Homo sapiens: one gene and its partners. The protein of the gene in region 1 interacts with the protein of each later gene in a pairwise test. Each region holds a gene or a part of one and is shown in the gene's direction. Other genes may lie near its edges. The genes, in order: FAM136A, MAGEB4 and TTC19.

Region 1 (8,983 bases):
CTCTATCTCAAAAAAATTTAATTTAATTTAATTTAATTTAATTTAAAAAAAAAATATATATATATATATATATATATACACAGTCAACAAGCCAGCAAGTAAATGACCACTCCATAAGAAGATTTTTTTTTTTTTTGAGATGGAATTTTGCTCTGTCACCCAGGCTGGAGTGCAGTGGAGCAATCTCAGCTCACTGCAACCTCTGCCTCCCAGGTTTAAGCGATTCTCCTGCCTCAGCCTCCTGAGTAGTTGGGATTACAGTCCCATGCCACCGTGCCTGGCTAATTTTTGTATTTTTAGTAGAGACGGGGTTACACCATGTTGGTCAGGCCAGTCTCAAAATCCTGGCTTCAAGTGATCCATCTGCCTCGGCCTCCCAGAGTTCTGGGATTATAGGCATGAGCCACCACCTAGCCACAATAGGAAGATTTAAACAGGATCAACTGTAGTAGGCCAGGCAATAATAATAATAATAGTGGCTTTAGGGTGATAACAGTAAGCTAGAGAGATGTGAATAGATTCAAGAGATATTTACATAATTGGATATTTATAATCATAAAACATTTGCTTTATTTTATATTTAATAATATACATATATAAAATAATTATTCAACCAAAGTTTTGAATATATATGTATTTTTTTGGCAGAGAGCTCTGAAGCAATTGTGTGGGGGGGTGTGTGTGTGTGTACATATATATATATTTTTTTTTTTTTTTTAACCTGAGACAAGGTCTCTATCGCACAGGCTGGAGTGCAGTGGCGTGATCTCGGTTCACTGCAATCTCTGCCTCTCGGGTTCAAGTGATTCTCATGTCTCAGCCTCCTGAGTACCTGGTATTACAGGCATTCGCCACCACGCCCAGCTAATTTTTGTATTCTTAGTAGAGGCGGGGTTTCGCCATGTTGGCCAGGCTGGTCTCGAACTCCTGGCCTCAAGTGATCCACCCGCCTTGGCCTCCCAAAGTGCTGGGAATACAGGCGTGAGTCATCATGCCCGGCCAGCAATTGAATATATTTTTAAAAAGTACTTGTGACTTCCAAAAAGTTGACTGAATTCTTCATTCTGCAGAAGACAGTGTTCTTTGCTTGTGAGTTTTCTTTTCCCCAGCAAGGCATCATAATCGACCAAGGAGTGTCATGACTAGAGAGTGATAACACTTCAATCTCATTCTTGTTGGCATTAATTTAAAAACAAGTGATAACATGAGAATTGCTTTCTAAATTATCAGTTTGATTGATAAAGTTTCATCTGGAAGTCTTTAACCAAGGTTGGCCATAGCTGGGTTTCTGGCTACCACCCATTGCTAACCTGAGGGTTAGAAAAGGTAGCAGCATCTAGCAAAATTCACTTCCTCCCCTCATCCCGGGCCTCCTGGCCCCCATTTATCTCACCCACATCCTGAACATGAGAAAATAGGAAAGAGCCCTAGTCCCTCTTGTGCCACCATTTGTCTCTGGCACTGCGGGGCCTGCGTTCACAGGATGGCATGCAGGAGAGGTGGGAAAGGAATCAAGATGACAGAACTGACTACCCAGGATCCTGAAAGAGCTGTGACTTGTTTCCAGTGAGTCAGCCCAGGCTTGAGCCAGATAATCCTGAAACCTCATTTCCCACCCTCAAAGCACCAGGGTAATAGCACAGACAGGTATCTGAGCTTCCTAACATGAGATTAAACTCTGCTTCCACCATGACTCCCATGGGATTTCCACAGCCAACTAACTGGAAGTCAGGAATCATTTTTCTTTTTTTTTTTTCTGGGTTTTTTTTTTTCTGTTTTTTTGTTTTTTTGTTTTTTTTTTTTGAGGGAGAGTCTCGCTCTGTCACCCATGCTGGAGTGCAGTGGCACCATCTCAGCTCACTGCAACCTCCACCTCCTGAGTGCAAGTGATTCTCCCACCTCAGCCTCTGAGTAGCTGTGATTGCAGGTGTGTGCCGCTATGCCCAGCTAATGTTTTTATATTTTTAGTAGAGATGGGGGTTTCACCACGTTGGCCAGGCTGGTCTCAAGCTCCCAGCCCCAAGTGATCTGCCCGCCTCGGCCTCCCAATGTGCTGGAATTACAGATGTGAGCCACCGCCCCAGCCAAGAATCATTTTTCGTAAATACTAAAAGTACCATTCAATTTGTGTATAGAAACTAACAAGGCTGCATTACTCAAGGACTTTTAAACTCATTTTAGCATGATTAACTTGGCTCCTACAAGTAGGAGCTGTTGGAGAGGTTCTGTCTGGCATTTTAGGAATAAGAGGGAGAAGTGAGTAGTTTCAGATTGTGCTATAAAGAAGAAAGAAAGAACTTTCTGTGGAATATGGGACATAAGTATAAACATTAAGTCAGTCACAATAGAGATTTCCTACTTTTTCTAGTCTGGAGTTAGCCCATCAGGATTGGAATTCCAGCTCCACCAGTTTATAAATGTGCAATCTCTGGCAAGTGGTTTCATCTCCCTAGGCCTCAGTTTTCTGCCCTGAGTGAGAGAAGAGAGGAGAGTAAAGTACCCACCTCATAGGGTGCTTTGTCATGGAAATTAAATGAGATCATCCCGTGGAAGGCACTTAAAACACTGTCTGGCACATTATTTAATAGTTGGTGTCGCCCTGATTCCAGCTGCTGCTGGGAGCCACTTGTAGTCGAGCTTGAAGTGAACAGGCTGTCTCAAGACCCTGAACTGTGATTTATGGGGAGATACTCACACTTGTACTCACTAGAGAGGGCCTGGCGCTGGAAGAACACAGCTTGTTTGGTTGCTTGCTTGCTTGCTTGCTTGCTTGCTTGCTTGCTTTTATTTTTTATTTTATTTTTTTTGAGACAGAGTCTCACTTTGTTGCCCAAGCTGGAGTGCAGTGACGTGATCTCAGCTCGCTGCAACCTCTACCTCCCGGATTCAAGCGATTCTCCTGTCTCAGCCTCCCAAAGTAGCCAAGACTACAAGTGCCTGCCACCACGCCCGGCTAATTTTTGTGCTTTTAGTAGAGATGGGGTTTCACCATGTTGGCCAGGCTGGTCTCAAACTCCTGAACTCCTGACCTCAGGTGATCCACCTGCCTCAGCTCCCCAAAGTGCTGGGATTACAGGCGTGAGCCACCGTGCCCAATCAAAACATAGCTTTCTTCAAAGAAGCTTGGGTTGAGTCAAACTCCCCACTGCCCTAAACTAGAGTTCTCCTGCCATCTAGCGCCCAATGGCAGAAAATCGTTAAATTCTAATGACGGCCCCATTCCTTTGTTCCTCCCCCACCCCCACCTTGCACCCCCATGCCTGACATGGCTTTCTCTTCAGCCCCATATGCCAAGCAAACACCCACTCATTTCAATTCAATTCAAAGCCTCAATTCAAGCCTTATCTCCTCTAAGAAAACTTTCCTGAGGAACCCGGATGGCTCACTCCCTCCTTGCCAGCCTGGACCACCTCCTCCAGCACACCTCTTCCAACACTGCCCCTTCCCCTTCTCCACGGAGTGTGTTTCCCTTCTCCACTGACACTCCCCTCTGGACCCGCACCCCTAGCTAATGTATTCGATAAATGAATGCACACGACAGTACTGTTATGGGTGGGACAGTGAGGCATTCCAAAAAAAAAACTGCTCCAGGAATTCAGAAACAGTTTCATGTTGCTGGCATGTAAGTGCTTCATTGATGACTGCTTCATTGATGATCTGTAGCCCCTGCTTTGTCTCTGAAGTTCATTTTTTATGAGAAATAAATGCATAAACATACATCTACCCTGTGATCCAACAATCCCATTTCTAGATATTTACCCAAAAGAAAAGAAAATCTGTGTCTACAAAAGACTTGGTCCAGGACTGGGTGGTGGTGCATACCCGTAATCCCTTTGATAGGCAGAGGCAGGAGGATAGCTTGAGGCCTGGAGTTTGAGACCAGCCTGGACAACATAGCAAGATCCCATCTCCAAAAGAAAAAAAAAATGGTCAAGGATGTTCATAGTCACCACTTTATTCATAATAGCTACTAAGTGGAAAAGACCCAAACACCCATCAGCAGGGGAATGGATCAACAAATGTGGGCCGGGACCGATGCCTCATGCCTGCAATCTCAGCACTTTGGGAGGCCGAGGTGTGTGGATCCCTTGAGCTCAGGAGTTGGAGACCAGCTTGGCTAACATGGTGAAACCCCGTGTCTACAAAAAAAAAAAAAAAATTAGCCAGACGTGGTGGCACATGCCTGTAATCCCAGCTACTCGGGAGGCTGAGGCATGAGAATCACTTGAACCAGGGAGGTGGAGGCTGCATGAGCCGAGACCACATCACTGCACTCCAGCCTGGGTGACAGAGTAAGACCCTGTCTCAAAAAACAACAACGACAAATGTGGTATGTCCATTCAATAGAATACTACTCAGCAGCAAAAAAGAACCAACAACACAGCTCAATCTCGAAAGCATTAGGCTAAGTATTTTTCAGCAATATGCTAAAAAAGCCAGACAGAAAAGGAGTACTTATTGGATAATAACATACATATGACATTCTAGAAAGAGAAAATGTAATCTACAGTGACAGAAGCAGACCAGTTAGGGCAGGGGTGGGGAGATGGGGTAGAAAGGACGGAGATTGGGACAAGACAGAGTTTGGGTTTTTATTGTTGTTTAGAGACAGAGTCTCACTCTGTCGTCCAGGCTGGAGTGCAATGGCGTGATTTCGGCTCACTGCAACCTCTCCCTCCCGGGTTCAAGCAATTCTCCTGCCTCAGCCTCCCAAATAGCTGGGACTACAGGCATGTGCCACCACACCCGGCTAATTTTTGTATTTTTAGTAGGGACGGGGTTTCGCCAGGTTGGCCAGGCTGGTCTCAAATTCCTGAGCTCAGGTCATCCACCTGCCCACGGCCTCCCAAAGTGCTGGGATTACAGGCGTAAGCCACTGCGCCCGGCGGACAGGGTTTGTTAAAACTCATCAAGCAGCACGCCTAAGATCTGGGCATTTATCTGTATGTAAATTACATTAAATAATTTTAAAGAATGTAAAGGGAGGGACATGGGAGGGAGGAGGAAAGGCAGGCAGCAGCCGCAGGGCAGGTGTCCCAGTGACCGGTTCCCAAGCGGGAGGAGGGCGGTGGGCTCGCGGACACCAGCATGCAGTGGCTCCGTTCGGCCGCCAGGGGGGGGCGTGGGCCCTGGAAGGGCAGGCGGCGAAGGGCGGCGAAGGGCGGTGAGGGGGCGGGCCCGTACGCCGATTCCATATGGGCGCCGGCGCGGAGCGCCGCGGGGCAGCGCGGGGTCGCCATGGCTGAGCTGCAGCAGCTCCGGGTGCAGGAGGCGGTGGAGTCCATGGTGAAGAGTCTGGAAAGAGAGAACATCCGGAAGATGCAGGTAGCGGGGCTGGGGCCGAACCAGGACCCCCTTCTCAGCGGGTGGGTTCCGGGCCCTTCCCTCAGCCACCACGCGACGCCTTGCACTGCAGCCGCGTCCCCGCAGACCGGGTGTGGGCGGCCCTGGGGTCGCCGGGGCGGCCTCGGACAGGACTTCGGAAGCTTTGGCGGATCGGATGAAATCCGTGTGCCCTTGCCGTGCGCGAGGCTGTTTTCCGCCCCTTCCAGCCCGGGGCAGGAGCGTCCTCGGCGGCAGGTGGGAAGCCCCTGGTGGCAGGCGCTCGCCCCACCACCTTCCCCTCTTACGCGGCCCCTTCCGCAGGTGAGCGGCCCGAGGCCCAGCAGAGGCGCTGCCAACGTGAAAGACCAGAAAGGCGAGGACTTCCGGCCTCCCCGTTGGCCAGGTCATGCCTGCTTCTCTTGCGCCCAACCTCGCTTCACACAGCGCGGGTTTCTACACTGTTCTTCTCTGAGCCCCGCAATGCCTCTGTGTGTTTCGGTCCTGCTTCTCTCACGGAGTATGCGTTTCCCAGATAGTGCCCCTTGAGTCATTGATTAGTGGGTCGGCTGCCCTCTGGTGGAATTTGTATTGCTAGGTTGCTGACCTCTGAACCCCATGGAAGAGGCTCCTGGTTTTCAGAATTTGGCTTCGTCAGACCACCCTACCCTCACCCACTCGGGCGAACCTCTGTTCACCCAACCATCGGTGCAACAGGTGCCGATGAGCTAGCAGCAAGGACACCATGAAACACTACACTAGACATTGAGGATAATTTTCCCCAGTGGTGGTTTTAAGGTCCTGGTGTCTATTCTCAGGGAAGGTGAAAGCAGAAGGTGGAGAGAGAGGTGCAAATATCCACGTGGCCTTCTAACTCCTGTAGTGCTCCATAGTCATCTCTGTCCCCAGAGACTTTCCTACCTAACCTCTCTGCCCTTTCTCCCCAGGGTCTCATGTTCCGGTGCAGCGCCAGCTGTTGTGAGGACAGCCAGGCCTCCATGAAGCAGGTGCACCAGTGCATCGAGCGCTGCCATGTGCCTCTGGCTCAAGCCCAGGCTTTGGTCACCAGTGAGCTGGAGAAGTTCCAGGTGAGAAATATCCTAGACAGAGCACTGTAGTCCTTGATACAGACTTTTGCAGGAGATGACAAGCATTTGTTCAAAACTCTTGGCTTTAGTGTCTTGGTTCTGTTAACAGTTGTGATACTGATGGCCAACCAGTTTTCACAGGGTTTGAAATTTTGGAAAAAGTCTTGGCGGTCGAGTGCCTTAAGTTGAACATCATTTCCTATAGAAATGATGTAGGCCGAGCGCGGAGGCTCATGCCTGTAATCCCAGCACTTTAGGAGGCTGAGGCAGGTGGATCATGAGAGCAGGAGATCAAGACCATCCTGGCCAACATGGTGAAACCCCGTCTCTACTAAAATACAAAAAATTAGCCAGGCGTGGTGGCACGCACCTGTAGTCCCAGATACTAGGGAGGCTGAGGCAGGGGAATCTCTTGAACCCAGGAGGTGTAGTTGCAGTGAGCCAAGATCGCGCCACTGCACTTCAGCCTGGCAACAGAGCGAGACTCTGTCTCAAAAAAAAAGAAATGATGTAATGGGGAGTTACCAGGGGAGTTCATGACCAAGAGCCCTTATGCAGTTTGTTGGGGAGGAGGCGTTTGTTTGTTCCTTTTGACATAACCACCAAATACAGAATGTATACTGTGTAGTATAAAGTTTCCTGGCTGGACGCGTAGCTCGCGCCTGTAATCCCAACATTTTGGGAGGCCGAGGCGGGTGGATCACGAGGTCAGGAGTTTGAGACCGTCCTGGCCAACATGGTGAAACCCCATCTCTACTAAAAATACAGAAATTATCTGGGCATGGTGGCAGGTGCCTGTAATCCCAGCTACTCGGGAGGCTGAGGCAGGAGAATCGCTTGAAACTGGAAGGCGCAGGTTGCAGTGAGCCAAGATCGCATGCCATTGCGCTCCAGCCTGGACAACAAGAGCGAAACTCCGTCTCAAAAAAAAATAAATAATGTTCAGGCACGGTGGCTCACACCTGTAATCCCAGCACTTTGGGAGGCCGAGGCAGGCAGATCACGAGGTCAGGAGATCCAGACCATCCTGGCTAACACAGTGAAACCCCGTCTCTACTAAAAATACAAAAAATTGGCCAGGTGTGGTGGTGGGCGCCTGTAGTCCCAGCTACTCGGGAAGCTGAGGCAGGAGAATGGCGTGAATCCGGGAGGCAGAGCTTGCAGTGAGCCAAGATCACGTCACTGCACTCCAGCCTGGGTGACAGAGCGAGACTCCGTCTCAAAAAATAAATAAAATAAAAATAAAAAAATAAAGTTTCCTAAAACATATATTATTTTTAAAACAGCAGAATCTCTAGAAAGGTAGGATAGCCTTGAAAAGGTACAGATTCGAGGAACACCCTTCCACCATTTTGTGGACTTATACACCCACCCAGGACTGCCCCTAGTTGCTATACCCAGAGGGCAGCCCCTCTGTCACTAAGGAGCAGTCATTTATGTGAATCATTATTACTGTTGACTCACTGATTCCTGGCTCACAAGCCCCTCTGAGGTTACCAAAAGAGCTCCCTGTTTCCCTCTCTGGAGCAAAGAGTATCCACAACTTCATTTTACTCCCATCTTCTAAGTATATTTTTCTGGAACCTGGGGGAAGCAAGCCTACTTCCAAGCCAGCCTTTCATAGCCTGAGGTTCCATCCACATGGAAACTTATACATAATGTGACACATCTTTACATTCTTCCATTCAAAACGCTTCAAAGTTACTGCCATTATGAAGGAATAACTTCTTCAAGATCATGGAACCCCAAAGGGTTTCTTTGTGTTCTTTTTGACAGCTAATTTTATAGATGGGGTCTTTGAAAATGTGATTCTTGGATTGCTCTATAACTTCCCTTGCATTATCTTTTTAGTCCTCTCCAAGTGGACTTTCACTCTTCACTGGGCCAGAACCACTCCTGCCACTCACCCCCATGGGGCCGAATCCGGGGGTCATTTCTCAGTCTTCATCTTACTCTGTCTGCATCATTGACACAGTGGATCCCTCTCCTTCTTAAAGCACTTTATTCAGTTGGTCACCAGGACATCTCACTCTCCTGGTTTTCTGCCTCCTTCCTTGGCCTCCTTTGCTCTCTCTTCCCCACTCCAGCCTCTGAGCATCAGAGTGCCTGGGGCTGTCCTTGTTTCTTTTCTCCTTTCTGCCTACTTCTCTAGTCTCCTCTAGCCTCATAGCTGTAAATATAATCTCTATGCTGACAGCTCCTGCATTTATATCTGTAGGCCAGAGCTCACTGATAAACTCCACATTCACATATCCAACTAATTCCTCCACATCTCCATTTACTTTGTTTGTCTCTTTCCTCTCACTGGAATGTAAGTTCTGTAAGGGTAAGAACTTTGTTTTACTCATTGCTATATTCCCTAACATTAAAAGAGTGCCTGGCACATAGTAGATGCTCAATAAATATTTGTTGAATTGAATGTTTTCCTGTAGAAAGAACAGACTTTAAAGAATCAGTGGCTCACACCTATAATCCCAGCACTTTGGGAGGCTGACGCGGGTGGATCACCTGAGGTTGGGAGTTTGAGACCAGCCTGACCAACATGGAGAAACCCCGTCTCTACTAAAAATACA
Region 2 (8,134 bases), on another chromosome or scaffold:
GTTTTGTAAAACAGATTGAGAAAAATTCGATCTTATTTAGTGATCTGTTGCAAGATAACTTGGAATTAGAATAAGCATTTCCTTGAAAATGTTTAAAAAAAAAAAGTCAGCAGTAAAATGTATGGCATTAAGAAATAGAGAAAGAGTGTAAGATGGTCAATATTTGGTTTCCTAAATGCTTTTACTCTGTGCTTTAAGAAAATGAAAGATAAATAACCATATATGTCTGGCTTACTTAAGAATGTAGAATTAAATCATAATAAATTAGACCTCATGCTGACACACTCATTCTCCAAGTGTTAATTGAGCATCTGCTCTTGGAAGGATCCATGCTAATACTGGGAGGGCTAAGAAAAAGAAGACCTAGCAACTGACCTTAAAATTATAAGGTCGAGAAGCAGCTATCATCTAAGGAAAATGGTGATATACACTCTAAGACCAAAAGGATACATGATAAGAAGGGAGGGAGGTGGTTCCACATGAGAACAGTCAAGTATGAATTATCTAATCAAGGCGGTGTTGGGCCTAAGGAAAGTGCAGGTCCCTCAATGGGAGTTAATCTAAGTGAGGCTCCATGGTGGGCTGGATGAGGCTGTGGGAATGGCGAGCAGGGGCCAGGCTCTTAGAAGTTGCCTCTCACGCAGTGGCGGGCGCCTGTAGTCCCAGCTACTCGGGAGGCTGAGGCAGGAGAATGGCGTGAACCTGGGAGGCAGAGCTTGCAGTGAGCCGAGATTGTGCCACTGCAGTCCGGCCTGGGCTAAAGAGCGGGATTCCGTCTCAAAAGAAAAAAAAAAAGAAGTTGCCTCTCAGAGGTGCGAGACAAAGCTTGGAATAGGAAACAGTTCTTAACAGTTACTTTGGGATCATGGATAAATCAGGGAGAATCTGGGGTAGGAATGTGTCCTGTGCTCTTGTCCCAGTACAAATAAACACAGCACACACTAGGTGTTTTGTGCACATCATCTCCAGCCAGTTTCTGAGAAATAAGGGTAATACCCTCAAGGGACGGGGGAGGCCCAGAAGCCACTGTGCTGGTACTCTTTGCCCTGGGCTGGGGGATCCAGAGCCTGTTCCATTAAAAGCGCATTCAATTAGGTTACCTCATTTGTGATTTGGCAAACTCTAGGCAAGGTCTAGATTTTGAGAGGTGGTTAAATGAATCAAAATAAAAGTGGTTTAGATGGAAGGATAGCTGAGAGAGAGGGAAGTTTTTGGTCCTTGAAACTCATTTTAGAATCTGTGTTGCATCTACTGAGGAAGTCTACCTCATACTAATATTGAATGATCTATCAAGTAATGAGGAAATATTATTTAGTTTTCCTTTCTAGGTAGCACTTTGTCTGATAGGGCTTTCTTTGTCTTAGAATATGGTATAATCTCTGACATCTCCTGCATTGAAAAATAAGTCCCAGTGTAGTAGATTGCAACGTCAGGGTACAAATTAATCATAATAAGAACTGGCACTATTATATGTCTCAATACATCTCAAGCACTTTACATACATTGTATACATTTTACCAGTCCTACAAAACAGAGCTTATCAAACCCACTTCACAGATAAAAAGCCTGAAGCCCACAGTCTATTAATATGTCCAATTTCACATGGCTGGTAAGTGACAGGACTGGGACAAGACCCCCAGTCTGAATTAGTGTAAAGCACACTCTGTTCCATGCCTCCCAACCTGAGACTGACTGTGTCCCCTTATTCACTTTTCTTCTCACTACTCCCAAACGTATATCAAGTGATGAAAAGATTCTGTACCCAATCTGCTGGACTGAAATACAGAACCAGAGCAAGGAAATTACCAAAATGGTCAAGAGGTGTGAATTAAGGAGAGAAAGATAATATTTGGTGACAATAAGATTACACATGCAAAGTCAGATAAACTCAAAAGATCATGGGGTCACATTCTGTCATTCTGGACTGTCCCCCTTTTTATAGGAAGTTAAATCTTTTCCAAGAGAAATACATAAGAGGGTAGTAAAGAGAAGAAATAGATCAATGTTTTTTTTTTTTTTTTTTTTTTCTCTGACAGTATGACTTCTATCCTCGGGCTTCTGCCTTGTGTTACAGCTTCCCTATCTTATATCACTCCTGGGACAGGGATGCATTGTCTGCAAGATTTATTATAGGGAAACTGATCAAGAATTTTTAGGGATGCGGCATTTCCCAGGAAGTCATTAACTAAGGGACAAGAGCCAAGATAAAGACCTTCATATAGGAGGACTCAGCAGAACAACATGCCAGACAGAGTTCTTAGCCTGAGCATCTCCTCACTTATTCTTCAAGGTTCTCAGGGACTTGTGAGTTCCTGCATCTCGGGTCAGTAGAGGGAGGAGTGCCATTCTCTGACACATACCAAGTTGAGGACCCTGAATGAAGAATGAGGGAAGCACTCACCCAAATAGCCTTAACAGGATGTGGCTGAACCTGATTTCTACTCCGGAGGTCTTAAGAAGGTAAAGACCATGATCTGAGGCTGGCTGACTCAGGTCCATAGAGGAAGGATTCCTAATGTGTGCCAGGAGTAAAGTGAGTACCCTGAAGAGTGCAGGAACCACCAAACCCCTATCAGTGGGGATCCCACAGAATCCTCCCTATTGTCACCTCTGAGAGATTTAGGCATGAATGTCAGAAAGAGGCACCCTCATATCCTCAGTAGTAACAGAGAAGTGAAGGTCTTGTTCTGAGGTGGGCAATCCCAGCTCAGCAAAGGGAGGAATATTAAGCCTTCCTGTGAGTGAGATTTAGGATCCTGAGTTAGGACCTGAGTAGGACAATCCACCATAAGACCTCAACCTGTCTACCACAGCTGCCACTCTTGGGAGACCATGGTCAGCTGTGGCCAGATAAGGCCACCCTCTTCCTCCTATCTGATCTCAGGGAGGTGCAGGCCTTTTAAATGGAGAGGTCTTCAGGTCAAAAAAGAGGGGAGCCCTAGGATCTGCTAGGAGCCAAATCAAGGAAACCGAGTGAGAACTGAGGGGACTGCTCACCTCTGAATAGAGAGAGCAACAGAGTCCACCCCCCTGCATAACTCTTAAATTGCCAGGGCAACATGTAAGGCTGAGGACTCACCATCACTTTTTTTTTTTAATAATTGACCTTCTTTTTTAGAATAGTTTTACGTTCACAGCAAAACTGAGCAGAAAGGAGAGTCTCACAGGCATCCTGTCCTCCCACAGACACAGCCTCCTTCATATCAACCTCCCAAGCCAGGGTGATACATTTGTTACAATTGAGAATACATGGACACATCATTATCACCCAATGTCCGTAGTTTAGGATTCATTCCTGTTGCTGCACATTCTGTGGTTTTAATATTTAAAAATGTATAATGACATATGTTTACCACCATAGAATCATCCAGAATTGTTTTACTGCCTTAAAAGTTCTCTGTGCCTGATCTATTTATCTCTCACTCTCCCCAACCTTTGGAAACCACTGAACTTTGTACTGTTTCCATACTTTTGCCTTTTCCAGAATGTCATATAGATGGAATTATGCAATGTATAGACTTTTCAAATTGGCTTCTTTCACTTTGTAATATGTATCTAAGTTTCATCCATGTCTCTTTGTGGCTTGATAGTTCATTCCCTTTTAGTGCTGAATAATATTTTATTCTGTTAATTTATCCACTCTCCTTCTGAAGGACATATTGCTTGCTTCCCAGTTTGGGCAATTATGAATAAAGCTACTATAAACATTTGTGTGCAGGTTTTTTTTGTGGACATACCGTTTTCAACTCATCTGGCTAAATAACAAGGAGCGCACTTGCTAGATCATATGATGAAAGTATGCATAGCTTTGTAAGAAACTTACAAACTGTCTTCAAAAGTGGCTGTATCATTTTTCATGTCCATCAGCAATGACAGTGTGCTCCTGTTGCTCCACATCCTCATCAGTATTTGGGGTTATCAGGGTTTTTGATTTTGACCATTCTTATAGGTATGTAGTGGTATCACATTATTGTTTTAATTTGCAAGTCTCTAATGATATGTGATGTTGACCATCATTTCATGTACGTATTTGCCTTCCATATATATTATTTGTTGAGGTGCCTGTTTAGATCTTTTGTCCATTTTTAATAGGGTTGGTCAGTTCTTATTGTTCAGTTTTAAGACATTTTTGTATGTTTTGGTTAACAGTCCCTTATCAGATATGTCTTTTGAAAATAATTTTTTCCCAACCTGGGAGTTATCTTATTCTCTTTGTGGTATCTTTAGCAGAGCAGAAGTTTTAATTTAGCGAAGTCCAGATTATCAATTATTTTCTTTCATAGATGCCCATCACATTTTATACCAGAACTAGAAAAGATGAAATTCTTGGTCTGAAGTTGCAGTTATCAGTCAGCAGAAGAGACAGTCCACAACCCTGCTTGGAGTCCAGATGAGGATCCTGAGTGCAAACTTGGGACCTAAAGAGCCCAGGACAGAGAGAGCACTAAATGCTTCTAGGCAGGGGTGGTGGGTTGAGGGGCCCCTAGACTTCCCTCATCTGGGTCCCAGAAAACTAAAGAGTCAATTTCACAACACCAATAGAGGGAGGCTCAGGCCCTGCCAAGAGCTGACATGACAATTCTAAAGGTAATCAGAGTGGATCCTCTCCAAGCCAGAACACAGAAAGCCCCACTGCGAGCCTTGTTGTCACCCAGTCAGCCCCAGGCAGGGTTGGCAAGCTGCAGCCTAAGGCACATTGTAACTTCCTCAGCTGGCTTCTCAGGGGACAGAATGACTAAGAACAATAGCCCAGTGAATACTTAGAGCAGTGTTCTCAAGGAATCCTGCAGAGGCGGCTTCTGAAAAGCCAAGGTAGTATCTGCCTGCTGAAGGTGTTCTCAGGATTTCATTTGCTCTTCTCCAGGAACCACATCACCTGCCCTTCTGCCTACACTCCTGCCTGCTGTGCCTAACCACAGCCATCATGCCTCGGGGTCAGAAGAGTAAGCTCCGTGCCCGTGAGAAACGCCAGCGGACCCGTGGTCAGACCCAGGATCTCAAGGTTGGTCAGCCTACTGCAGCAGAGAAAGAAGAGTCTCCTTCCTCTTCCTCATCTGTTTTGAGGGATACTGCCTCCAGCTCCCTTGCTTTTGGCATTCCCCAGGAGCCTCAGAGAGAGCCACCCACCACCTCTGCTGCTGCAGCTATGTCATGCACTGGATCTGATAAAGGCGACGAGAGCCAAGATGAGGAAAATGCAAGTTCCTCCCAGGCCTCAACATCCACTGAGAGATCACTCAAAGATTCTCTAACCAGGAAGACGAAGATGTTAGTGCAGTTCCTGCTGTACAAGTATAAAATGAAAGAGCCCACTACAAAGGCAGAAATGCTGAAGATCATCAGCAAAAAGTACAAGGAGCACTTCCCTGAGATCTTCAGGAAAGTCTCTCAGCGCACGGAGCTGGTCTTTGGCCTTGCCTTGAAGGAGGTCAACCCCACCACTCACTCCTACATCCTCGTCAGCATGCTAGGCCCCAACGATGGAAACCAGAGCAGTGCCTGGACCCTTCCAAGGAATGGGCTTCTGATGCCTCTACTGAGTGTGATCTTCTTAAATGGCAACTGTGCCCGTGAAGAGGAAATCTGGGAATTCCTGAATATGCTGGGGATCTATGATGGAAAGAGGCACCTTATCTTTGGGGAACCCCGAAAGCTCATCACCCAAGATCTGGTACAGGAAAAATATCTGGAATACCAGCAGGTGCCCAACAGTGATCCCCCACGCTATCAATTCCTGTGGGGTCCAAGAGCTCATGCAGAAACCAGCAAGATGAAAGTCCTGGAGTTTTTGGCCAAGGTGAATGACACCACCCCCAATAACTTCCCACTGCTTTATGAAGAGGCTTTGAGAGATGAAGAAGAGAGAGCTGGAGCCCGGCCCAGAGTTGCAGCCAGGCGTGGCACTACAGCCATGACTAGTGCGTATTCCAGGGCCACATCCAGTAGCTCTTCCCAACCCATGTGAGATCTAAGGCAAATTGTTCACTTTGTGGTTGAAAGACCTGCTGCTTTCTCTGTTCCTGTGATGCATGAATAACTCATTGATTTATCTCTTTGTTGTATTTTCCATGATGTTTCTTAAAATAGAAAGTTTATTTAGATTCAGAATATAAATTTAGAAATGGCATGCATCACACATTTATTGCTGTTTATCAGGTTGGTTTAGTGATAATAATTTTGTTTTTGAAATACAAATAGAAAATCCTGAAATAATTTTTGTGATACAGAGCAAAATAACACGGCATGGGAGTAAGGTTATCCTTAGAAATTTAAAATAACTCCACAGTAAAATAGGTAGAATCTGAAGATAGAAAGGGAAGAAAAGTAAAAGTTGCTTTATTCGTGGTTTGTCTTACTCAGTTCAGTCTTTTTTTGCTCATAAATTTAAAAGTTACATACCTGGTTTGCTTAGATTATTCAAGAATGTGGAGGCCTGGGCCAAGGTCAATGACAGTGTCTCCATTGTCTTCCCTCCATTAAGAGAAGACTTTAAGAGATGAGGGAGAGAGAGCCAGAGACAGTGTTGCAACTGGGCCTGGCATGTTTCAGTGTGGTGTCCAGCAGTGTCTCCCACTCCTTGTGAAGTCTGAGGTATATTCTTTACTTTTGATTAAGAAAACACTTAACCTTCTAATTAATGGAGAGCCAAAGGGGAGTTGGTGGGAACACCATGTATAACATATTTGTATGTAAAATGATTTATCTTTTCTTTTTCCTGTTTTTCAGTGTTCTTTTTTTAAATTGTAGATTTATTTAGTTTCAGAATCTAAGTTTATGAATGGCATGAATCACTCATTTATTAAAATATATCAGGTTGGAGAGTGAGAATTTTTGCATTATGTAAAACAATTTAAAAATCTTTTAAGTCTTTTTCTGTGATCTAGAACAAGATAATATGGCATTGGAATATGGAATTTGTGAAAAGGAAATTACCTTGCAATAAAGTTGGTGGGACCAGGAAGTAGAGAAAAAAAAAGTAAAATGTGGTCAATTCTTGCTTTGTTTTATTCTTTTTAGTCTTTCTTTGTAAAACTGAAGTATATGTACCCGGATCTGCTTAGCTTTTTCAGGAATGTGGGGGAAATTAAATAGCAATACATTTGACTTCCTGGTCACTTACACTTCAATTGTCCAAATATTAATTGAGCAGCTGTACTTTGGAGGGCTCCTGGCTAGTACCGGATAAGCTAAGAAAACAAAAAACAAACAAACAACAAAAAAACCCCAATCCCTGCCCACAGAATTTTAGAATCCAACAGCAGCTATCATATAACGAAGGTAATGAGATACTCCTTAAGACCTAAAGACAGGTGAAAAGGGGATAAAAAAGAAGGTGGGGGTATTACCAGCAGTGGAATCTAGTGTAAATGTCCTAAGCAAGGTAACTGAGACTTCGGGAAACTGAACATACTGCAATAGGAGGTAATTTTATGTCCTGGCATAGTGCCTATATGGGGCGCACTGAGCAGGGGTCACACACTCAGATGGTGGATCTCACACTTGAGAGATGGAGACTGGAATGAAAAATTGCCTTTAACAGTTACTTTGGGATTGTGGAAAAACCAGAGGGGATCTTTGCCTGGAGCAGGGATTGAAAGTGGCCGGTGCTCTTGTCCCAGTGCAAGTGAAGTGAATCCAGTACACAAACTAGGTGTTTTATGAGCGTAGTCCCCAGGGTGTTTCTGAGAAATAAAGGTGATACTCCTTTAAGACTGGAAACTCATAAGCCACTGGGCTAATACTCTGCTATCAGCTGGGGAGCCAGAACCCATTCCATTAAAAGGAATTTTTTTTCCTTTCATGTGTTTTTGCAAATTCTAAGGGAGATCTAGATTTTTGATGGTGGTAAAATGAATGAAAATAAGACTGGTTTGGATGAAAGGTCAGAGTTGGTCCTTGAACCAAAGCCTAGAAGGTTTGAGTTGCTTTCAGCTGAGAAAGACAACTCCACACTCAAAATATGATTTAATATGGAAAAGTTATTTAGAGTTTCTTTGTAAGCTGCGTTTTGGGCTGATTTTATTGTTCCATGTCTTAGAATGCTGTATATTCTTTGTTATCTCTTGGACTTAAAGAAAATCAGCAGGGTGGATGATTTCTTCTGTAGTTGAAATAATCTTAGTAATAACAAGTA
Region 3 (7,576 bases), on another chromosome or scaffold:
GTGACTAGAAGTTATTTATGAAAGAGAATCATTTATGTTTGAAGAAGTAAATATGCCTCAGTTTCAAATGGTCCTTTAAGGGCTCTGTATAAACGATTCCAATATATTTCTCAGTTGTTATTAAAGTACTTGATTTTTTTCTTGTCTAACTTTTAGCAATTTTTATATTAATATTTCAAAGAACCATGTTTAAGTAAATTACTAGCAAAGGAACTCTTTGGGGGAACTTTATGAAATTTTCTCTTGGCAGTTGCTAAAAGTTTTCTTACGTTTTCTAAAAGTTCAGTAATAGTACATTTATCTTTAGAAAAGTTTGCTTTTCAGAAAGTGTTTCCATTTTTCTTGTGGTCAGAATGTGCTGTGAATTTTAAATGTATTTTTAAGATATTATAGCTAAATTGTACCTCACTGTTTTCTCTAAAAAGTTTTACTGCTTTTGCTTCCACTCCACTATTCAGTGATAACAAGGGTAACAAGTTTCCACTAGAATTGCTTGTCACTTTATTCTTGTACTTTTGTTTTACTACTGAACATCTTTTTAAATCGTTGCCACAAAATATCTCGCTTTTATCATTTTCACATTGCTCTAGTATATCAACTTTGGAAACAAGACATCATTCTATTTATAGCATTCTGTTTTTAGTAGTGGTATTTCCATTTACAAAATACAGTAATTCTTGATCGCTGAAGACGTCAAATCCTAGAAAACATAGCATGCCTACGCGTGATGTTAACATCATTCTCGAATAGTTGTTGGTTGAAGATTCATTTGATGAATCCGATTTTTCAGAAATAGACGAGTCTGATGATACAGACGATTCTGGTGTTAGTTCTCTGTAGAAATAACTCCAAGAACACTTTTAATAGTTTATTTTCACATTGAAAATCAGATTTGCTCCAGCCTCAAAGAGTATATTTATGTAAAATTAGGTAAGCGATATAGAAGCAAGCTGCACTTTTTTTCTAAATGGGAAGGTATTAAAAAAGAAAAGTCTCATTTTAGTAACATAGTCTTCCTTAAACTCTATGCCACTTGTAAGATTTCTGAAAACTGAAGACATAGAAGGGAACGGGCTTGATATGAACGACAGCTTTGCTGGTAAATAAACCCAACTGAACCTAAGATTATCTAAGGTAACCTCTTTTTCTAGTCTTTTATTGTGTGAACAGTTACCTCCTGCTGAGTTGTTGGCAGAATTTCCATATAATCTTGCTTATGACCATTTCTACATTATTTGTATCATCTTTTAGAAGTCTTACCCAGGTTGATATAGGTTACCGTTCTCTAGATCTGTGTCTCCAATTCTTCTTACATGGCATTAGGTATTTTAAGCTTGTTTTTTTTCAGACATCGTATAGTCAATTCTTGAATGTGTTGAGAGGTGCTATGTCATTGTAAGCTTTATTCTTCTTCTCTGAATGATTAGCTTGTTTAAATTTTACCTTAAATTCTTTTTTTTCTTTTTTTTTCTTTTGAGACTGAGTCTTGCTCTGTCGCCCAGGCTGGAGTGCAGTGGTGTGATCTCGGCTCACTGCAAGCTCCACCTCCTGGGTTCACGCCATTCCCCTGCCTCAGCCTCCTGAGTAGCTGGGACTACAGGTACCCGCCACCACGCCTGGCTAATTTTTTTTTTTTTTTTGTATTTTTAGTAGAGACGGGGTTTCACCATGTTAGCCAGGATGGTCTCAATCTCCTGACCTTGTGATCCACCCGCCTCGGCCTCCCAAAGTGCTGTGATTACAGGTGTGAGCCACCGCGCCCGGCCTTTACGTTGAATTCTTTAAATTCAGCTTGTGACTTTGCACTTCAGGATTCTGAGTGTTCTCTGTCTTCTTCCTGCATTGTTTTTCTTATACCATACAGGTTTTTCATTGGCCTTGACTTTTTGTTGTTAACTCATTCTTCTTTGGGTTTATTTTCATTTGTTTCTGCTGAATATTATTTGTTTCAAACTAAAAATAACATTCCACATTTTAATTGATGTGCGGACTCTTAATCTACTTAAAATGTGGGCTGAAGTTCCATGATTCCAGCTAGTCTGGAATAGGTCATTTAACTGGATGTTAATTCACCTACATTGTTCCCTAAGTGACATGTGGGTCCCATTCTGCTGACATATTTGTGGGTCCTGGTAACAACCATTTGGGTAGATTTGCTGATTCCTCTTTTCTCCTTAGTGGAAGAGAAAGCCAATACCCACCTCCTCTTGGGCATGTGCTTAGACGCCTGTGCTCGCTACCTTCTGTTCTCCAAGCAGCCGTCACAGGCACAAAGGATGTATGAAAAAGCTCTGCAGATTTCTGAAGAAATACAAGGAGAAAGACACCCACAGGTAAGGGAGGAAAACACAGAAGGGGGAATATAAAACAAAGGCTTCAAAATTGAAGGGTGTGAAATGTCACACTCATTGGTAACAGGATCAGCAGATGGTCCTAGATCCTCCTTGGTCCCCAGTCTACTCATTTTCTTATCACCAGCACCCTCACCCCAACTACTTGTTTCAGAAAGGATTTGAGACTAGTTATCAGTTACTAGGTCTGCCCAGAACTTTTTGCATGATCCATGGTTTGCACAACAGAGCAACCTTTCTACAGAGCAGGACTGGTCAGGCTTCAATGGACACAGCACAGTATTTCAGAGTGGGGTCTCTAGATACCCCTATTAGAAGCTTATGAGGAACGGTTTAATACACAAATATCCTTGCCTCCCTTGCCCCACAGTTAAAATGGCAAGAGGTGAGGGAAGGGCAAGGGACCACATTAAAAACACTTAAACCATTGGCATATTATAGAATTTAAGTATAACGTGTAAAGCTCTGTGTTAGAACATTAAACACATTGAATTGAAATCATCTCTTTGGGTCTCCCCTCCATCCGAGTAAGTTCTTAGATGTAAGGAGTGCATTGCTTTGTCTATGAATGCTTGCTACTGCCAATATAAGACATAACAATTTTAACTGAATGTGTCCCAAGGCTGGGGTACATGGGTAGGGTGAGTAATATGTTTTGGAAGAAAAGGGAGGTTGAGCTATGAATTATCTCCATGAAAGGGATTTATAACTTATTATGAAGAGTCCCTTAATGGAGTGAGGAATAATAAACAAGCAAGTACAGAATTCAGATCTCCAAGTACTAGAGTCAGGGGGCTTAAAGCATGGCATCAGTGGGGAAGTAGGTATGGAAGTCTACCTCTTCCATACTGAAATTCCATTTCAGTAGCCAAATTAAAAAAACTCCTACTGGGCATCTTCCTAAAATAGATGGTGTATTTCTTGTTTTTGATGAGCCTCAGGGTTATCAGCAGGAACAACATAATACAGTGGGGCTCCAGAGGCAATCAAACCATAGGAGGCTGGCTTCTCAAAGTTGCTCAGCCTTAAAGGAGATAATATGTGTAGCTTCTTGCTGTTGTTTTTCATTTGGTGCTTCTAACTGGGTAATTAGTTGGATTAATAAGCACTGTCTGTTACCTAATTTCCAGATTTGTATTATTTCCCAAAAGGTCGAACTAACATTGTCCACTGTACAATGTGATTATGATTAACAAATGCCCACAAATTTGTTAAAGAATGGTATCCCTCATCTTTTGTGGAATGCTAGGAAAGATGAAATCTTATGTATTCAGAGTTGGATGCACTCCACATTAAAGTTCTGTGAAGGCATGTTTTTAAAGAAAAAATTGTTTTTTCTTTTACATACAGACCATTGTGCTGATGAGTGACCTGGCTACTACCCTGGATGCACAGGGCCGCTTTGATGAGGCCTATATTTATATGCAAAGGGCATCAGATCTGGCAAGACAGATAAATCATCCTGAGCTACACATGGTACTCAGTAATCTAGCTGCAGTTTTGATGCACAGAGGTAGGTAGCAATGTAAACTTAACTGACTTGCTTTAAGGGAGGGATGTCACTGGATTGATAGATTTGTGAAGTGGTATGTAGGGAGGGCAAGGGCCAACGAATAAACATGTAAATTAAAAGACTGGTTGAATGGCAGAAAAAGGAGGTATTGATTAGGTTGAAGTACTATTGTGTTCAATTCACGTAACTTCTACAGACCTGCACTAGCCTGTCGAACCCCATCAAGCTGGAGAAAACCTTGCAATGATAGTACCTTACGTCAGTAGTGCTTTACAGATTTCTAAATGTGTTCAGTTACAATGTGTTTCTCACAGTGTGCTGGTGAAGCTTTATGACAGGAAGTATCATTTTGTCAGACATTTCTTAGTGTCAGCACACTATACCGATCATTTTCAGAAACCTGGGATGACAGGTGTATTACACATACCACCATTCATGAAATCTTGGGCTCATCAAAGTCCTCAGGATATACTGGAAAGGGCCGTTAGGAATCCCACAGCATTCAGTGGAGTTCCAGCCTGTCAGATGGGGATGAAATGAGGCAGCACCAGCTTGTCGCTTCATAAGCACACAGTAAATTAGCCCTATATCTGCATTCATGCTCTCTCTTCAGAATCACCTTGAAAACATACACTTTCTTCTTACTGTCCCTTCTCTCTGGGTTATTTTAGAACGATATACACAAGCAAAAGAGATCTACCAGGAAGCACTGAAGCAAGCAAAGCTGAAAAAAGATGAAATTTCTGTACAACACATCAGGGAAGAGTTGGCTGAGCTGTCAAAGAAAAGTAGACCTTTGACAAATTCTGTCAAGCTCTAAATCCATTTTTGTGTAGGGAGAATAATGTCTAGTAATGTGGAAGAATAGCTATCATTCCTGTCTCTGTGGCACCCGATCAATGGCTTAAATCTGTCGTTTTTGATATTCAGGTTTCCTCAATTTAGCCTTAGTGAAGGAGGGGTTGTACACACTGCCATTTTTGTATTTTAAAGGAAAAATGACTTTCATTCCCAACTGATTATGACCTTTCAGGATGTCGTCAAGTGATGCTTTCAGTTGTAACACGTGACTTGGTGCTGTCCCTGCTGGTCTAAGTAGAACTGTAGATTCATATGGGCTGGTGTTCCTGTGCGCTGTGGGTGTGGTGATTCAGCCTGGCATTTCTACCATAAGTTTTTGGTCTGCTGATTTGCTGCCCTGTCTTCTCTTACTTTACTTTATCAATACCTGGCAAACTGACCAGAATTACCTTCCTCATGGCAAAGGGGGATTATGGTGAATTGTTGTTCTTATAGTCTGTTTCATGAAGCACAAGTGGAATTTAATACATAAAAGAGAAAAATATCTTAGTTTGCTACCAGCATCCAGCATGAAGTTGTAAAGTGGGGATTAGGCACGTGACAGTATAGCACCCATTTGAATTTAAATAAAAGTGAACCATATTTATCTGGTTATATAAAACTAAAAATGGGGGTGTTTATATAAAACTAAAAACTAAGAATGATGTAACCTTTTGTCTGTGTTATCTGAACACTCTACTTCCTTTGCAGCCTTAGTCACACAACTGAGTCATCTCAAGTACTCTTTAAGGACACACAGCCCAGGCTGTTCTGAGTCAGAATAGGCCCCTACAGGTATATTTTAAAACTCTTCGTAATTCTAATGTGTACTGCTGGTATAGCTGAACTACTGACCTGGATCTTAGTCCTAGCCTTTTTGCTTTTGCAATTTCAGTATCTTCATCTCTAAACTAGGGAAACACTGGGATTCTTTCTTAGCTGTGGGGGAAGGTATTTGGTTAGATGACTTTGAATGAATAGACTGCTGTGCTGAAAGAGCTTTATCACACTGTCTCAAAGTATGTAAAGATACATAGGTGGATGCTCTTACTGCAGCAGTCATGAATACATTTTTAGCCATTTACCTAAGGAAAAAGACAGTTTTTCTAGGTACCATGAAGGAAGATTGACCCTGTTGGTATGCCTGTGGGGGTGGGATGTGAGTGGGACTGATAAACTGATACTTTTGGTTCGTATGTACATACTGGAAGAATCTTCATAATAAATGAGACTACACAACAATATTGTATGTATCCCAGTAATCTTTGCATTTCTCAAAAAAAAAAAAAAAAAAAAAAAAAAAACTTTCTGAAGAAAATAAAAACACCAGAAACCTTGAGGTCCAAATCCTCAGGGATTAGACTAAAACTAGAGTTTTGTATGTTGCAGATGTAAATTTCTTCCTATTTTCTGTCTAATCTCATATTATTTACCATGCAGCTAATGCCGTTTACCAAGTCTAGCTCAGAGAGATAAGATACAATATAAATCAGACTGTTTCAGTAGAAACCAGTATTAACGTATGGTGATTTCTTAAAAAAATTAATGTCAACCACTCACCTTTTGCATTGAGAATGTTTTTACCTTTTCACAACTGCAGGGGTTACTGAAAGGTTTTTCATTCCAAGTTTTATTTATTTATTAATTTTAAATCATCCACAGTGACTCAGCTCATGGTCTCGTTGTTGGAAACACTAGGAGTTTTCAGGACAGTCTCTTCATGTGGGTGTTTTCATTACAGTTCATTTACACTGTTGTAAAATAAGGTACTGAAGCAAAAGGAGGACTGATCTCCTTTACTGATTGGTCTAAATTCAAAAGTGAATTGGTTAAAATCGTGTCATTAAAATTTTTTAACTGTCCAATGGTCACTGGAGTTTTCTGGGCATAAATATTTTTAAAATAGAATCACTCAGTGTACCAAAATTAAAAGCATTATGAAATTTGCAGTCATAAACATGCAGTGGAAAACTGGCTGTCAGAATACTTTTATGAAGAGTATTAGGAAGACCTTAATTTAGTTCTGGGTGCTAAAAAAATCACGTGTAAGGATATAGTGTCAGAACACTGAAATCTAAGTCTACAAAGAATATCATGTTTTGGTTTGCAGTGAACCACAGTAAGTTGTCAGTGCTGCTCTGTGCTTACCACTTAAATCATGATAAGGTGAACCTCCATAGGTAAACCATGTGAGAATTCTGTCCTTTCATTTATTTTGAACCAAGAACTATTATTGGATTTTAACTCTCATTCTGAGATTTCTTCTCCAGGTGATGGTAAATAAAGTAATACGCACATGCATTATGATGAGGATGGAGGGAGTGGTTCACAGCACCTCACCTTCGGGTCCTCAGGTAGAACTGCAAGAGTAAGAAGTTAGGCTCTGATCTGACATGTTCTCAGAAACTATACGGTTGACCTTCAAATAATGCAGGAGTTAGGGGCATAGACCCCCTAAGTAGTCAAAAATCCACATCTAACTTTGACTCCTCCAAAACTTAACTACTCATGGCCTACTGCTGACCAGAAGTCTTACGGATAACATAGTCGATTGACACATATTTTGTATATGTATTATATACTGTATTCTTACAATAAAGTAAGCTAGAGAAGAGAAAATGTTTGTTAAGATTATAAGGAAGAGAAAATATATTTACTATTCATTAAGTGGAAGTGGATCATCATGAAGGTCTTCATCCTTGTCATCTTCATGTTGAATAGGCTGAGGATGAGAAGGGGTTGGTCTTGCTATCTTGGGTGGCAGAGGTGGAAGAAAATCCATGTATAAGTGGACCCACACAGTTCAAACCCGTGTTGTTCAAGGGTCAACTGTATTCTGACTCAGAATAGCTTAAGACCCTCAGGGTCATAG

The links.
Region 2: the proteins of FAM136A (region 1) and MAGEB4 interact in binary tests that used the Homo sapiens proteins (3 or more experiments, as listed by UniProt).
Region 3: the proteins of FAM136A (region 1) and TTC19 interact in binary tests that used the Homo sapiens proteins (3 or more experiments, as listed by UniProt).

What each region holds. Positions count from the first base shown.
Region 1 is NC_000002.12:70,298,267-70,307,249, reverse strand, and holds the start of FAM136A (protein FAM136A), read left to right. Parts: upstream 1-5,182; 5' UTR 5,183-5,238; coding exon 5,239-5,646; exon of another isoform or gene 5,647-6,269; coding exon 6,270-6,410; intron 6,411-8,983.
Region 2 is NC_000023.11:30,237,212-30,245,345, forward strand, and holds MAGEB4 (melanoma-associated antigen B4), read left to right. Parts: upstream 1-4,788; 5' UTR 4,789-4,924; coding exon 4,925-5,965; 3' UTR 5,966-6,976; downstream 6,977-8,134.
Region 3 is NC_000017.11:16,022,839-16,030,414, forward strand, and holds the end of TTC19 (tetratricopeptide repeat protein 19, mitochondrial isoform 1 precursor), read left to right. Parts: intron 1-2,178; coding exon 2,179-2,333; intron 2,334-3,701; coding exon 3,702-3,864; intron 3,865-4,535; coding exon 4,536-4,684; 3' UTR 4,685-6,566; downstream 6,567-7,576. UniProt on the Homo sapiens protein: Required for the preservation of the structural and functional integrity of mitochondrial respiratory complex III by allowing the physiological turnover of the Rieske protein UQCRFS1.